Linked DNA regions of Homo sapiens: regions 1, 2 and 4 are each reported to be linked to region 3. The links are microRNA targets in miRTarBase. Many come from high-throughput screens and were not tested one by one. Region 3 holds a microRNA gene; each other region holds the end of a gene's coding sequence. Distances are between the middles of the regions.

Region 1 (4,000 bases), not on the chromosome of region 3:
TCTGGAGGAGGAGTCCCAGGAGGAAGTGAAACTGGGGGACTTGGGGGACCAGGGACTCCAGGAGGAGGTCTGCCCCAACTGGCTCTGAAACTTCGGCTGCAAGTCCTGCTCCTGGCTCGAGTCCTTAGAGGTCATCCCCCACTTCTGCTAGACGTGGTCAGAAATGCCTGTGATCTCTTCATTCCTCTGGACAAACTAGGCCTCTGGCGCTGTGGCCCTGGGATTGTGGGGCTTTGTGGCCTCGTGTCCTCCATCCTGTCTATTCTCACCCTAATCTATCCCTGGCTACGACTCAAGCCCTGACCTTCCGGTACAGGATAAGGAGGGGACCTGAATTGGTGAGATGGAATCTTAGATCGTCCCCCATGTGCCAGCCTCATTCGAATTCTACTCTTTGGTTAAAGTTAGAAATTCAGAGATTTAGGGGTGGAGGAAGAGCTTTGGGGAAGATGAGGTAAGGAAAGATGACTCGTGAAGTTAATAGGATGTCTCTAATTTCTAGATGTGCCTGAGCTTCTGTTCTTTTCCTCTTTCTTTGTGTCTCTCTTGAATATATTTACTTTGTGTCTCTTAACTCTGTTTAAGGTTCTGTGTCTATGCATCTCTCTCTTTCTTTTTTCAACCTTCTCATTCTCCTATCCAGGGATTTAATCAGCAGAATTACTTTTTGATAGGGGAGGTATAAGGTTTGGCCTGTAAGGTTCTAACTGCCTTCTTTTTTCTCACAGAGGTGGCTTATGGCAGATTTTTCCTCCTTCAAACTCCAAACATAATTTTTAAGACTATGTGCCAGTGGACTCTTCCCTTATATCTCTGCACCACAAGTTGTTGGATGTTTCCTCTTCCTCCCTTATGTCTACCTCACCAACCTCGCTCATCATTTGGCCCTTATCCTTCCTTGTACACCTACCTTCAGATTTCTGCTTACACTTTGATTTCAGAGCTTTATTCCCCAGTCTGTTCTTACTCCTTTGTCGCTTATCCAGAATGATGCTATGTGTAGCATCTTGCTGTAAATCCTGTACAATGATTCTGTGTAAATAGCTGTGGCCTATGCCAATAATGAAGAGCAAGCCTTTCAGGTAAGCAAATTAAAGTTCAGTTTGCTCATCGACATTTGGTCTGGTCCCTCATTTTTTGGTAATTTGAGGCCCCTATTCCTGTCACTGTGGTTTGGGTTTTTCTCGGGATTAGCCACTAACATCACCCACATTATTTTTCTTGAGCACCTACAGTATGTAAAGCAACATACTTAGTGGGCATCCAAAAATCTAAGAAGCTCCACACTCCCAACTTTAAGAAGTTTATAACCTAGCTGAGGAGTTGGGGTGGCAGAGGAGTGGTCTAATACTAAAGTTATTGTCCTGGCTCCACAAAGCACATCTCATACCAGTTCAGATATAATCCCTCTAAGAAGCAGAATGCCATATGACAGCATAGGCTAAGAGCCAAGGACAGAACCAAGTGGAGTGGGGCTGGTAAGGATTTGGAGCTGTGTCTTCACAAGTTGAGACTCCCCTGGGTGGGTAGGGAAATGATACCACTGCTATCAGCTCTTTCATTTTCCATATTCCAGGTTGAGATAAATAAGGTTAGGAAGTGAATCTATCGGCCAGGCGTGGTGGCTCACGCCGGTAATCCCAGCACTTTGGGAGGCCGAGGCAGGTGGATCTCTTAAGGTCAGGAGTTCAAGACCAGCCTGGCCAACATGGTGAAACCCTGCCTCTACTAAAAATAAAAAATTAGCCAGGCATGGTGGCATGTGCCTGTAGTCCCAGCTACCTGGGAGGCTGAGGCATGAGAAATGCTTGAACGTGGGAGACAGAGGTTGCAGTGAGCCAAGATTGTGCCACTGCACTCCAGCCTGGGTGACAGAGTGAGACTCTGCCTTAAAAAAGAAAAAAAAAAATCTGAATCTATCTCCTATCTCCCAGCTGGGTGCAGTGGCTCACTTTGGGAGGCTGAGGTGGGAGGATTCCTTGAGTTCAGGAGTTCAAGACCAGCCTGGGTAACATAGTGAAACCCTGTCTGTATTCTCAATATAAATAATTTGTCTAAAACTTTTAAACAAAAGTTTAAGATTCTTTTCTTATAAAAAAGAATCCATCTCCCACTCCTGTTCCAAATTTGAGGAAAGCATTATTGACCTGGCAACAATAAACAGTAGAAAAAAAGAAATAGCAGAAATGGGCAAAAAAATATGTTCTCTGGATATAGAGATGAGGCCTCCAGGGGGCAGCACCAAGGCAGAGAAATAGACTAAGATCGCTCAGTGTTTTCCTTGGTCTGGGGCTCCCCACAGTTCCCCACCATCACTCCTCCCATTCCTTCCAACTTTATTTTTAGCTGCCATTGGGAGGGGGCAGGATGGGAGGGAAAGTGAAGAAAACAGAAAAGGAGAGGGACAGAGGCCAGAGGACTTCTCATACTGGACAGAAACCGATCAGGCATGGAACTCCCCTTCGTCACTCACCTGTTCTTGCCCCTGGTGTTCCTGACAGGTGAGGGAAGTTAACTTCTTGGTTTCTGGTGGGGATGGAAGATACATAGATTGTTTGGAATTGGGACCATTATAGTTAAAATTCTTTGGGATTTAGGTTAGGAAGCGAACACTGGTTGTACATTTCTTGTATGTGTGTCTGTGTCCTTGTGCATTTTTATGCCCTCACATATGACTGTTTGAATATTGAGACTGGCAGGGGCTAAAGCTGCCTAGGACCTTGTGTAAGATTTGTATCTAATAATTATATAATATATAATGTATAATTATATATTATATATAATATACATATAATATATAACAATTATATATTATATATAATATACATATAATATATAACATAATTATATATTATATATAATATACATATAATATGTAACATAATTATATATTATATATAATATACATATAATATATAACATAATTATATATTATATATAATATACATATAATATATAACATAATTATATATTATATATAATATACATATAATATATAACATAATTATATATTATATAGTTATATATTGTATATAATAATTATTATTATTTTTTAAAGATAGGGTCTCACTTTGTTGTCTAGGCTGGAGTGCAGTGGTGCAACCACAGCTCAGTAGTTGGGACTACTAGGTACGCGCCACCACGCACAGCTAATTTTTTTTTTTGAAACAGGGTCTCACTCTGTCATTCAAGCTGGAGTGCAGTGGCATGATCATGGCTCACTCTAGCCTCAACCTCCCAGGCTGAGGTGATCCTTCCACCTTAGCCTCCCGAGTAGCTGGGACTATAGGCGTGTGCTACCACGCCTGGCTAATTTTTTTTTTTTTAGAGACAGAGTTTTGCTATGTTGGCCAGGCTGGTCTTTAACTCCTGGACTCAAGCAATCCGCCCCCGACAGCCACCCAAAGTGCCGGGATTATAGGCATGAGCCACCATGCTTGGCTGAGATTTGTATCTAAATATATAAAATCTTCATCCTAAGCCCTATAGGGGTAAGGAGACAAAAAAGAAATGTGATGTGACCTTCCACGTGGCTAGTCTGATTCCTATTATCCCCTCCCTAACTTCTTACCCTTGGTGGTCCCTGGGGCCTGAGGCATAACTGACTAACTATGTGGTCAGAACTCTGGGTTTATCTAACCAATGAGCTGCAGTTTCTGGTCATACAGCCCTGCCAGTTTTCTGGATGCAAAACTGCTCACATACTAAACACCTTTCTGAAAATGAGCATGGTTTGGGATAAAGCTATAGCCATTGGTAATGGTGAGGGGGTAGCCTGAGAGGGGGTTGCTTAGAAGTACAGAGCAAGACATAGTTGGGGAAAGGACCATGGGAAGGACAAGAGGCCTGGAATTTTTCCTTGGCAGTGCCCTGTAATCATTGTTTCCTAAAATACCAGCTCTGATTTTAAAGGCATTGGGGTCAAAAGGGAAGATTAGCTAGGGTCGGGCACCTTTAGAATGGGCTGAAGGCTGAGGAAACCATGGAGGTAGGTAGGGGA
Region 2 (4,000 bases), not on the chromosome of region 3:
ACTGGTCATTTGGTACTGAAGGGTGGCAGTGAAGATGGACAGATTTGACAGATAGGTTCGAGAGGAATCTGGGAGGTAAAATTAATGGGGCTTGGTGATGACCTCAATTTTGGAGTGAGAAAGAACGGATGTGTGGAGCATGTTCAAGCAGTGAATCATCTAGTCATGAGGTAGAAACAAAAGAAAACTATAGAAAGGGTTACCTCCACTCTCAGCAATAGCATTGAAATATTCCCTGCTCATGGCTGGCGGGGGAGTGGGGGGGGGTGGGCAGGAAGACAGGGAGGAGGGAGGGGATTGGCAGGGCCACAAAGCAAATCTCACATTGCCCTTCGAGAGCTCACATTTTACCATAGCCAAACAACATGAAAATCAAAGTGATAGGTGGCCAGGTGAGGTGGCTCTCGCCTGTAATCCCAGCACTTTGGGAGGCCAAGGCAGGTGGATCACCTGAGGTCAGGAGGTCAAGACCCGCCTGGCCAACATGGTGAAACCCCGTCTCTACTTAACATATAAAATTAGCTGGGCATGGTGACATGCATCTGTAATCCCAGCTACTCCGGAGGCTGAGGCAGGAGAATCGCTTGAACCTGGGAGGCAGAGGTTGCAGTGAGCCAAGATCATGCCATTGCACTCCAGCATGGGCAACAGAGCAAGACTTCACCTAAAAAAAACAAAAAACAAAAAAACCCTCACATCTTACAATAGCTGAACAACATGAAAAACAAACAAAATGATAGGTGGCCAGGCACGGTGGCTCACACCTGTAATCCCAGCACTTTGGGAGGCTGAGGCAGGCAGATCACCTGAGGTGAGGAGTTCGAGACTAGGTGTGATCTCAGCTCACTGCAGCCTCCATTTCCTGGGTTCAAGTGATTCTCCTGCCTCAGCCTCCCAAATTGGTGGGATTACAGGCACATGCCACCACACCTGGATAATTTTTGTATTTTTAGTATAGGTGGGGTTTTGCCATGTTGGCCAGGCTGGTCTCAAACTCCTGACCTCAGGTGGTCCACCCGCCTCGGCCTCCTAGAGTGCTGGGATTACAGGTGTGAGCCACTGCACCCGGCCTGAATCTGCATTTCTAAAAAGTTCCCAGATAATGCTGATGCTACTGGACTGGGCTCACAGTTTGAGAACCACTGCACTGGATTAACTAAAAAAAATTTTCTGGTCAATTATCTAATGATGCTTTCAAAAACTGAGGTAAGGTTATCAGCTGAGTTCTATCCTTCATGAGCCACAGCACTCAGATGGCATTCCATATAATGGAAGAGAATGAAAGAAAAGAAACCTTTAATCCACCACTTTGCACTCTAAAAAGTGATAACTACCCAGCTCCCTCCTTAACCCCTTGCATTTGCGCTCACTCCTCCACCCCCATTCCACCAGGATCAAGGACCCCAGCACAGGTTCTTGCAAAGCTCCCTACAACTTAGACTACACCCTCCATCATTTCCAAATTCAGACTGGTTTAATGGATATAATATGGGTCCTCCAGTCCTGTAATGTCTCACAGGCACTGTAACAAATCCCAGAGCTGGTCTGTTGTTGCAGAGGAGGACTGCAGGCTGGAAATCTAGTGACTTGCAGCCAAATCTGGCTCTTCTGTTAACTACGTGGCCCATGATGAGTCATGTCATTTAGCATTTTTACGCCCTAATTTTTCAACAGTTTTTTTTTTTTTTAATCCCTCACTATGAGAGAAAAAGGAATACCTAAAGAAATATTAGCCAAAATTTTCTTGGAAAAAAGACATTAGCAACAGAATTATAACATAGAGATATTACATTTATAGTTAACCAACAAAGTGTGTGTGTGTGTGTGTGTGTGTGTGTGTGTGTGTGTATTTTTAGATCCTCACAACAACCTTGTGAGGTAGGTAAAACTTGAGGCTGGGAGAAGATGAAAGTCTGGCCAAATTAAGCGTCAGGGCCAGGACTCAAATACTTTACCTTCTCAATGAAGTCGGTGTTCTTTCCAACACACTTGCCGTCCCTCAATTTATTTCAATTGAATGTAGGAATGTACTAGTGCATAACCTGGATGGCCCTAAAAGGATCAGAGAATTATATTAACCTAAAACTAAATGGCCAATGACCCAGCAAATTAGAAAACAAGAGTTGCTTCCTTCAGCTAAATGCCAGGGAGGATCCCTGTAATATCATTTGACATTCTCAGCAATTTTGCTTCCACAATTTTATAGTCCTCTACCAGGTCCCTCTGGCTTGTTCATTGTAGGATATTTTCTCTGTGTCAGATGACAGCAAACCTCTGGTAGATACACTGCCATACACTGCCATTTAAAAGAGCTTCTGAAATTCTTTCAGCCTCCAAGTCACAAGACCGCAAACATCCTCTACGATAATTTGGCCTTGTCATGGCAGTGAGACCTCTGGTGACTAATGCCTGCACAGCACTGAACTGGCAGTGCATTTCCATTTTATTCAATTTGTGTATTCCAACCCCAAACCTTCTAGTTCCAATCTAATTTCTTTCACGTTCTGAGTTTGGGGCGGGGGGACTACACTAATAAATTTCTAATTGAGTAATAAGACTGATAAAAGCCACCAATCTTGTACTGAGTGTCTTTTAAGGGCCAGGTACTGCATTAAAGCCTTTATATAAGACCTCAACTATTAATCATTAATAATGATGGGACCATTTAGTTATTGAGCATCTATGTTGTGCCAGGCACTGTACTAGGTGGTGAACATGTGATCTCTAGGCCACATTTTTCTCACTTCTCATTTAGTAACTAGGCATCAACTTTTTAATTTTTTTGGAGACAGAGTCTCTCTCTGTTGCCCAGGCTGGAGTGCAGTGGCATGATCTCAACTCACTGCAACCTGCACCTTCTGAGTTCAAATGATTCTTCTGCCTCGGCCTCCCGAGTAGCTGGGACTACAGGCACGTGCCACCATGCCCAGCTAATTTTTGCATTTTTAGTAGAGATGAGGTTTCACCATGCTCACCAGGCTGGTCTCAACTCCTGACCTCAAGTGATCCACCCACCTTGGCCTCCCAAAAGTGCTGGGATTACAGGGGTGAGCCACCACGCCTGGCGGGCATCAACTATTAAACTCACATTTCCCTAAGAGTCAGTCACACACTGAAGGAATGCCTTTTGTATTCGGACCGTTATTTGGACCCTTTAAGTTTATCCTCTCTGTTATAACATAGACAAGAAAGAGGGAGAATAGATCAGGGCCCAAATTGAGCCACTGACGCCCAGGTTTTCTCTATTTGGGGTGCTTGAAGACAGTAGCAATGAAAATGTGCAAGGGAGCAGCTGAACACCAAAGACTACTTCCTAAATCAAATGGGTGTTTTGATGGCATAAAAGATGCGCTTTCTGACGGAAGCTCTTGTTACATTTACTACAGTGGAAAGGTTTTTCTCCTGTATGCGTTCTCTGGTGTGTGAGGAAATGGGAACGCTGATTGAAGGTCTTGCCACACTCAGGACATCGATAGGGCCTGTCTCCTAAGTGGATTCGCTGATGGGTAATAAAGTGGGAGCTCTGATTGAAGCTCTTCCCACACTCTCCACATTTGTAGGGTCTTTCTCCGGTGTGGATTCGTTGGTGCTTAATGAGGGCGGAGCTGTCGGCGAATCCTTTCCCACAGTTTTCGCACTTAAAAGGTCTCTCACCTGTGTGTGTTCTTTGGTGCGTGACCAAATGTGAGCTCTGACTGAAGCTTTTGTGGCAGTCAGGACAACTGAAAGGCCTCTCTCCTGAATGAGTGCTCATGTGAGCTACAAAATGAGAACTATCTCTGAAGCCCTTCCCGCACTCCGGGCATTTGAAGGGCCGTTCTCCCGTGTGGGTTCGTTGGTGCTTAATCAAATCCGAGCTCTGGCTAAAACTCTCCCCACAGTCATTACACCTGTAAGGCTTCACCCCTGTGTGGGTCCTCTGGTGAGTGATGAAATTTGAGCTTCGACTGAAGCTTTTGTGACATTCCAGGCACGCGTAGGGCTTCTCGCCTGTGTGGGT
Region 3 (4,521 bases):
GCACATTAGGTCTCCAGAACTTACTCATCTTTGAACTGAAAGTTTGTACCCTTTGACCCACATCTCCCTATTTCCCCCACCCGGAGCCCCTGGAAATCACCATTCTGCTCTGTAACTATGAGTTCAACTTTTTTTAGATTCCTCATATGAGTGAGATCATGCGGTATTTATCTTGTGTGTCTGGCCTATTTCACTTAGCATAATGTCCTCCAAGTTCATCCAGGTTGTTACAAGCAGCAAATTTCCACCTTTTTTTTTTTTTTTTTTTTTTTTAAGAAAGAGTTTCACTCTGTTGCCCAGGCTGGAGTGCAGTGCCCCAGTCATGGCTCACTGCAACCTTGACTTCTCTGGGCTCCAGCAATCCTCCCACCTCAGCCTCCTGAGTAGCTGGGACTACAGGCCTGCACCACTACACCCGGCGAATTTTTTTTTTTTTTGTATTTTTTGTAGAGCCAGGGTTTCACCATGTTGCCCAGGCTAGTCTTGAACTCTGGGGCTCAAGTGATCCACCCACCTCAGCCACCCAAAGTGCCTGGGACTACAGTTGTGCACCACCACACCCGCCTAATTTTTTTTTTTTTTTTTTTTTTTGTATTTTTTGAAGAGCCAGGGTTTCACCATGTTGCCTAGGCTGGTCTTGAACTCCTGGGCTCAAGTGATCCACCCACCTTAGCCACCCAAAGTGCCTGGGATTACAGGCATGAGCCACCATGCCTGGCTATTTCCTTCTTTTTTAAGGCTGAATAATATTCGTGTGTGCGTGTGTGTGTGTGTGTGTGTGTGAGATAGATACACACACACCACATTTTCTTTATTCATCTGTTGGTGGACACTTAGGTTGTTTCCATATCTTGGCTATTGGGAGTAGTACTGCAATGAACATGGCAGTACAGATATCTCTTAAGGATAGTGATTTTATTCTCTTTGGATATATATCCAGAAATGAGATTGCTGGATCATATGGTAGTTCTGTTTTTAACGTTTTGAGGAACCTCCATACTGTTTTCCATAATGGCTGTATGGAAAATATGAGCCAAAGCTCATTCTCTAATAACATTTCTTGACTAGTGCATTCAAGTATCTGCCCTGTCTTAACATTTTAGCTAATTGCTAACACAGCACATGCAGTACATACTTTCAGCAGGACTGAACATTTTTAGTCATCTAACAAAGACATTTCATCTCATGACAAGTTTTTTGGACATACCTCAATGTGCTGTGTCTGTAGCTAACTTAATTACAGGAGCCGCCTTGGCAGTACCAGGAACCAAATGTTATGACCAGCAACTCTCCTATAGGTAGTACTGCTTTTATAACAGTGTAAATCACAGTTGTGCCAATTTTTTTTTTAAAGAAGCTAAATGGAAGATTTAAACCTTAAGTTGTTTGGGCTTTGAATCCTTGTGTTCTTAGAACACAAGCTTTAGTCAGACAGCAGACTTTGAGCTAGTACTTAACCTCTCTGTGCCTGATTGAGTAAAACTGGGCTACTTTCTCAGAGTTTTATAGATTAATTGAGATATTTTGTGTAGAGAGCTTAGAACAGTGGCTGGCTCAGAGCATCTATCAACCTTGATACCATCATATTCCTTGCTAGGAAATTCTGTGTTTATTCATCCCTTCTTTTTCTTTCATCCTCCTTTCTAGTTCCACATTGAAGATCCCAAACTTAAACCATCATTAATAATAATATATGAGAACAGTAATAAATGTCACCATTTATTAACACCTAATGTGTGCCAAGATCTGTTCATTTATGATCTCACCGAGTCCTGTGAGGTTGGCATTGTTGTCTGGCATTGTCTGATATACAACAGTGCCAACCTCACAGGACTCAGTGAGGTGAAACTGAGGATTAGGAAGGTGTAAACTGGACAAGCGCATGGCAGAGTCAGAATCCAAACTCAAATTTATTTGGATCAAGAGTGATACACTATTATGCACTACTTCCTGTTACCTCCTATGTGGTGATAGGAATAACTTATAAGGATTTTTTTTTTTTTAGACAGGATCTTGCTCTGTCATTCAGGTTGAAGTGCAATGATGCAACCATAGCCCACTGCAGCCTCAAACTCCTGGGCTCAAGCAGTCATCCTACCTCGCCTCCCAAGTAACTGGGACTATAGGCATGCACCACCACACCCAGCTAATTTTTAATTTTTAGTAGAGACAAGGTCTCGCTGTGTTGCCCAGGCTGGTCTCAAATTCCTGAGCCCAAGTGATCCTCCCGCCTCTGCCTCCCAAGGTGCTGGGATTACAGGCGTGAGCCACCACCACACCCAGTCTACTTCTAAGGATTTAATGCCTTATGTTTTCTTCATTTATTTCTCATAGAACCATTCACTCTTAGCACTTTGACTTTGAAAATCAGGGACCAGGTTGAGCCAGACAAAATATTCACCTATAAGGAGAAGGAATGAAAAACCAGACATTTTTCTACTTGGCTATCAATCCCCAAGTTTGATTTGCTGAGAATTTTTTCCCCTCTAAAATAGAGTCTGATTTTCTTTCCCTTCAACCTTCATGTCACTGGAAAATTTTAAATTTAAATAGATCCTAAGGGGGTGGCTCAAGGCTCTCATTGAAGGTTTATTATCTGCTGGAAGGCTGTAATGTAATTGCAAGGTATCATTTAAAGAGCTGTCTGTCTGTGTGAACCACCTTGTTCTGAATACCTGTTCCTGCATAGAGCCAGAAGATGTACATTTATTTATCAGTGGTGGTTCATAGCTGCCTTAGATCAATCGTATTATTCTTCCTCCACGGCTCAAGCCCCAAAATAAATGGCTTGTGATGTACAGAGCGTTGAAATCATTTGTATATCATCAGTCATTTGTTTCTCTTCTGTCATTTGCATTTTGATGGACAGCCATATGTTTGGGGGATTTCATTTTTATTACAGCCTTTGGTCACATTGTCCATTTGTAATACCATCTTAGATATTAATTACCCCAATTAGAGAAGGCCCTTTCAAATATTACATCACCTCCAAGTCGCGCTATTCATACCATAAAGCTATAAATGCCAACTATTGTTTTATTCTTCCTTTTTGACACCTGCTTCTCTATGGAGAGGTATTCTTTCCCAGAGTTTGTCATCAGTGATAAGAGAAAATATCTTTGTGTAGAGGGGTAGGGAATTATTGTTTTTCCTCCATAAATACCTCATCAATTCAGTGGCATTGTGGAGTAGAACATCCATTAGTGACTTTTCTAGGTGTTGGTATGAGAACAAGTAGACAAGCTTTGGTTCCAGCCCTACCAGTAAATAAATAGCTTTGTGATCTTGAGCAAATTACATCACTTCTTTGTGCTTCAGTGTCTGCATCTACAAAGTATGGATGACTTCTAAGATCTTGTCAAGCTTTAAATCCTAGGACCCTATGATGACTTTCTTCACCTCTTCCCTAGAGTTTAAGAGTTATAAATTGATAACTTTTCAATGTCTTAATATCAGTTATATCTTTTTCTAAATCTTCTCCCTTACTGCAAACTCTTAGATGATGTTTACTTCTTGTCACCTCCAGTGTGTCTGTCCCTAGAAGGCTTGTACGCTTTCTAATTTGCCATTTCAATTCAGCTGGAATAAGAAACCCAGTTATTAGTTTTTCAAGTATTATCTAAAGTACGGGTTAAATAGATCCTAAGGGGGTGGCTCAAGGCTCTCACTTGAGGTTAGACTTTATGAGCCATGTTTAAGTGGCCACAGAGACAGCGAACCCTTTATTTATATTATTTTAAATAAAAATAATCAGGAAAGGCTTCCTAGATAGGTGTCATTGCCTAGTAAAGGAGGTTCCTTGGGCTAAGGGAACAGCATAAGCAAAAGCACTGAGGCAGGATGGTCTCTCAGCAGTCCTGAGCAGTGATTGTCAGGAGGCTGTACCTCCTGAGTTACTGTACCTCTGTCCTCCCTGCTGAGCCTGGAGATCATTTCCTGATCCCCAAGGAGACCCATAATCTGACAAAGATTCCAGGTAGAAAAAGTAGTCTGGGAGTTGTAATTTAAATTCTGAAATATCAGAATTTCCAGACATTTAAAAAATTTCTCCGGGCAAGGTGGTGTGTGCCTGTAGTCCTAGCTACTCCGGAGGCTGAGGCAGGAGAATAGCTTGAGCCCAGGAGTTTGGGGCTTTAGTGCACTATGCTGATCGGGTATCTGCACTAAGTTTGGCATCAATAAGGTGACCTCCTAGGAGCAGGGGACCACCAAGTTGCCTAAAGAGGAGGGAACCAGCCTGATTGGAAACAAAGCAGGTCAAAACTCCTGTGCTGATCAGTAGTGGGATTGTGCTTATGAATAGCCACTGCACTCCAGCCTAGGCAACATAGCAAGACCCCATCTCTGAAAAAAAAAAATTTTTTTTAGCTTTCAGTATGTTAGTGTTTATGAGTCAGTGGGAACAGACTATTTGAAATTAGAGCTGAGACCAGTAATGCAGGATGTCTGGTCACCGTGGTTATCAGTTATAGAAGAACCATAAGCCCTGGTCCCTCCTGAATTCCAGGAGCTGTGTTGTCT
Region 4 (4,000 bases), 20 Mb from region 3:
GGAGGTTGTGGTGAGCCAGGATCGTGCCATTGCACTCCAGCCTGGGCAACAAGAGTAAAACTCCATCTCAAAAAAAAAAAAAAGGCTCGGTAGAATTCCATTGTATATATATACCACATTTGAAAAATCCATTCAGTTATTTCCATATCGTGGCTATTGTGATTAATGCTGCAGTGATCATGGAAGTGCAGACATCTCTTTGATATACTGATTTCAATTCCTTTGGATATATATTCAGAAATGGAATTTCTGGATCAACTATTTCTCTTAATTCCACCATAAGCTTTTCCCTTAAACAACTTGAAATTTACATAATCAACCAAGTATTCTCAGAGAAAGCCTCTAGAAGTAACTGTTTATATAGTAAATGTTATTAGGGTTATGAGGAAATCAAAAGCCTTCTGACAAGTCTATTTTACTGCTACATTTTATCTAAATTTTTTTGCCTTTTATTCCTAAGGGATGAGAGTCCAATGAAAGCAAACTTCCTTCAAAACATGATAGAAGACAGAACAGAATCTGCATTATCATATTATGAATTCCTGTTGCATATACAGCAACAAGTGAATAAATGAATGAATGAAGAAATTTGACTTATTTTTAAGGAATGTCACGATAGTGCAGAATACCTGGAAATGTGTAATACCTTCTTTTTCTATTATGTTTGTGGACTAATGTGATGATTGAGATGTTCTCACTGTGATTTCAACAACCTATAGCAAATAAAAGACCACAGCAGAGAATCAAACATGCAACTCTGAAATACTGTATTTTTCAAATCAGAATATAGCTACGTATGATTGGATACTTTTTTCTTGCCAATTATGTTTGAGTTGTTATGGATTAAAATAAGAATATTGCAGAGGCAAAGTACATTTTGTAAAATAAAGATTTCTGTGTTCTACATGTATATTTCTCATTTTTAATTTTTCTGAATCTTTGGCTGCTACATTTAAAACCTCACAAACCTAAGTGTTGCAGGGAAGTTACAAATTGATTGGTAGTGATGTTTTTAAAATAAAAACAATGGAAAGTAAATATAATGTAGGAAAACTAGAATTCATTCCCCACACGTGTCTTTTTTTTTTCTTTGTTAAGGGAAAGGATCATGTTGACTAAAACTAAACTAATTCTAGTATAGCTTGAGAAAAATATGAAGAAACACATTCAAGCTTTAAAATCTGTCAGTATTCTTTATGCTTGAAGAACAAAGTCACTTTGATTTGAAGTGAGAACTATCATTAGGTGGTTTTCTGATTTCCTGATGAAGAGTTGGACATACTGTCTTAATCTATAGTGAAAAGAATTTGAGCTGTCTTCATAAACACTGGGACTAGCAATGATAATAGGGAGATAAGAAACTTTAATTATCTTGATCCTTTAAGTGGATTTTATTTGGTGCATTTCTGCTCTGGGTATATAATAAAAGTGGGGGTTTTTGGTGAAATGAGTGAAGAAATGAAAGGTTTCTAAAGTGCTATCCAAATACATCAGTAACATTTTTCTAAGGAGTTTAATTGTTAAATTGGAAGTCATTCATAAGAAATATTTATGCTTGAATATGAAAATCTATGAAAGCATAAATGCTGCTGTTTGATTTGGTGGATATTAAGATTATACACATCCAACATATTAAAGTTATGAAAGAAACTTGACTTCTGAAAATCCTTAAGAGACTGCTTTCTTGATTCAGCTAGAGAAATATTATAGTCAAAACTATTGAGTGAATTTTGTTTACAAATAGGTAAATTATACATTTGTATATTTAAAGTGCTGTGACATAGTATCTTTAAGAGTTTGGCTCAGTTTTCACAGATTCATTTTGTCTTAAGAATTTCTTAAATATGTTCATGTATAATACTTGATCAAAATATTTTTGGGTTTTTTGTTTTGTTTTAATGGGTTAGAAAATGTTTACAATCTTGGTCTTATATGATCACCAATGGAATAGTAACTTCCAGGTTTATATCAATATGAGCTGACTTTAACTGAGTTGTTTGGGATAGGGAAGAAGCAGTCCCTCTACAGTATACAACTACTGCTTGCCAGCTGGATCAAAATAATCATGTTTTATGAAAATATCTCCCTTAAGCAGTGTTAAGGTTGGTTTGCAGTGTGTAAGTGGCACATTGAACTGGAAGTTTTCTTGAAAGCTGCTTCATCTATTAAGAAGCAATTTTCAAATTGTAGCGAATTATATTATCCCCTCTTTTAAAGAAACAGTCGTTATATGCTGATGTTTCTTAAAATAACTAAAATGTTCCTCTTAATGTGATTTTAAATGGAGTTATTTGTAGGTCCTTTCTTAGTAGTAAAGAATCTTCTAGAGGGAAACATTTGTGCTTTTAGGGATAATCTTCCTTGTGCCTCACTACATCCCTAAGTGGGTATGACTCTTGTTATTACCACATGCTTTTTTAGTATATTTCACAAATTTACTTTTAAATATTATTTTAGATACGGTGTAACATGTGCAATTCAGAATAATTTTATAACAGGTCATGAAAAACATAACTTTAGTTAGGATTCACAATATTTGTTCTCCACATAATGAGAGAATGAATGAGCCTTTGGAGATACTGATATAAGGCAATTATTTTTTGCAATGTTGAATGTGTTTTTTAGTTTGATTCTTTTTTTTTCCCCCAATAGGGCACTACCTGCCATATCATCTTGTATTACTTTTTGATGTAAAGCGACTAATATTTACACTATGCCATATTTTTTTTAATTATAGTTGTAAATTATGAAAGATCCTTGAATTTTCTACAGATCTACAACTACTAATGTAACAGACAAGGGCAATCTTGGTATTTAAATCTGAGCATGGCAGTTCTACCATAAAAAGTACTCTATTTTTCTAATTTCTAGGATTTTTAAAATAACATTTCTGTAAGTCTGACATACTAATAGTCACTCAAGCAGTACCATTTATTTTAGTTTGCATATATTTTCACTGTTTTTAATTTAATGTATTGAGTCTAATAGACTGTTTTGCAATAATTAGAATAAAGATTTATTTCTTCTAATCAAAGATGCATAACAGCTATTATCTAGGGGACCACCAAATGTGATTTCAAAATTTTGTTAACTATTACAAATGTAATCCTTATATAGAAATTTTAATTTTGTAAAGTAGTGTATAATATTGTAATATTAAATTCTTGTTCTTAAATTCAAATATGTATTGATCTTCAATGTGCTGTGTTAAATCTTGCTTCTCTGAAAAGTTGGAGACAAGATTTGTCTTCCTTTTTACAGTTTGTAATTTTCACTGTTTTATTCCTGTTAAAAAAAAAAAAAAGTCATTTGTAACCCATGCAGACCATTGTTTGATCTATGCTAACTTATCAACTTGGCTATTCAATAAAGTTAATTGAAAAGAGCTTATATATAGTGACTAGTTATTTAAAGTGATATGAGCCTGGTATGGTGGCCCACACCTGTAATCCCAGCAGTTTGGGAGGCCCAGGTGTAAGGATCACTTGAGGCCTGGAGTTGAAGACCTGTCTGGGCCAGGTGGCGAAAACTTGTCTCTACAAAATAGTTTTTAAAAGTAGGCTGGGCGTGGTGGCTCACGCCTGTAATCCTAGCACTTTGGGAGGCCAAGGCAGGTGGATCACCTGAGGTCAGGAGTTCGAGACCAGCCTGGCCAATATGGTGAAACCCCATTTCTACTAAAAGTACAAAAACTTAGCCAGGCATGGTGGCGCATGCCTGTAATCCCAGCTACTTGGGAGGCTGAGGCAGGAGAATCGCTTGAACCCTGGCCGAGGTTGCAGTGATCCCAGATCGTGCCATTGCACTCCAGCTTGGGGAACAAGAGCAAAACTCCATCTAAAAAAAAAAAAAAAAGTCCAGGTGTGGTGGCTCATGCCTGTAATCCCAAAACTTTGGGAGGCCGAGGCGGGCAGATCACCTGAGGTCAGGAGTTTGAGACCACCCTGGCCAATATGGTGAAACTCCGTTTCTACTAAAAATACAAAAATTAGCTGGGCAT

The links. Region 3 holds the annotated microRNA hsa-miR-1294 (UGUGAGGUUGGCAUUGUUGUCU, at 1,774-1,795, shown strand). A microRNA usually pairs through its seed, bases 2 to 8, with sites in the 3' UTR of a target mRNA and lowers its output. Matches are read on the target gene's strand: a 7mer-m8 pairs with bases 2 to 8, a 7mer-A1 pairs with bases 2 to 7 and ends in A, and an 8mer does both.
Region 1: the mRNA of PEX11B is a reported target of hsa-miR-1294. Seed matches in the 3' UTR shown: 7mer-m8 at 859-865.
Region 2: miRTarBase lists ZNF774 as a target of hsa-miR-1294. Seed matches in the 3' UTR shown: 8mer at 1,873-1,880.
Region 4: the mRNA of SEC24A is a reported target of hsa-miR-1294. Seed matches in the 3' UTR shown: 8mer at 958-965.

What each region holds. Positions count from the first base shown.
Region 1 is chr1:145,908,464-145,912,463 of GRCh38, reverse strand. PEX11B (peroxisomal biogenesis factor 11 beta) reads left to right here. Exons shown (of 4, transcript NM_003846.3): 4 at 1-1,114. The coding sequence ends at 303. ITGA10 (integrin subunit alpha 10) reads left to right here and starts at 2,414. Exons shown (of 30, transcript NM_003637.5): 1 at 2,414-2,501. The coding sequence starts at 2,450.
Region 2 is chr15:90,360,597-90,364,596 of GRCh38, reverse strand. It overlaps ZNF774 (zinc finger protein 774), which reads right to left. Exons shown (of 4, transcript NM_001004309.3): 4 at 1,750-4,000. The coding sequence ends at 3,314. Among named protein-coding and RNA genes, the nearest start is that of ZNF774, 10 kb to the right of the region's middle. RefSeq lists a silencer at 1,426-1,720.
Region 3 is chr5:154,345,380-154,349,900 of GRCh38, forward strand. MIR1294 (microRNA 1294) reads left to right here and starts at 1,727; the gene lies at 1,727-1,868. All of the region lies in intron 4 of GALNT10 (polypeptide N-acetylgalactosaminyltransferase 10), which reads left to right. It also overlaps the pseudogene RN7SL655P.
Region 4 is chr5:134,724,520-134,728,519 of GRCh38, forward strand. It overlaps SEC24A (SEC24 homolog A, COPII component), which reads left to right. Exons shown (of 23, transcript NM_021982.3): 23 at 461-3,390. The coding sequence ends at 575. Among named protein-coding and RNA genes, the nearest start is that of CAMLG, 12 kb to the right of the region's middle.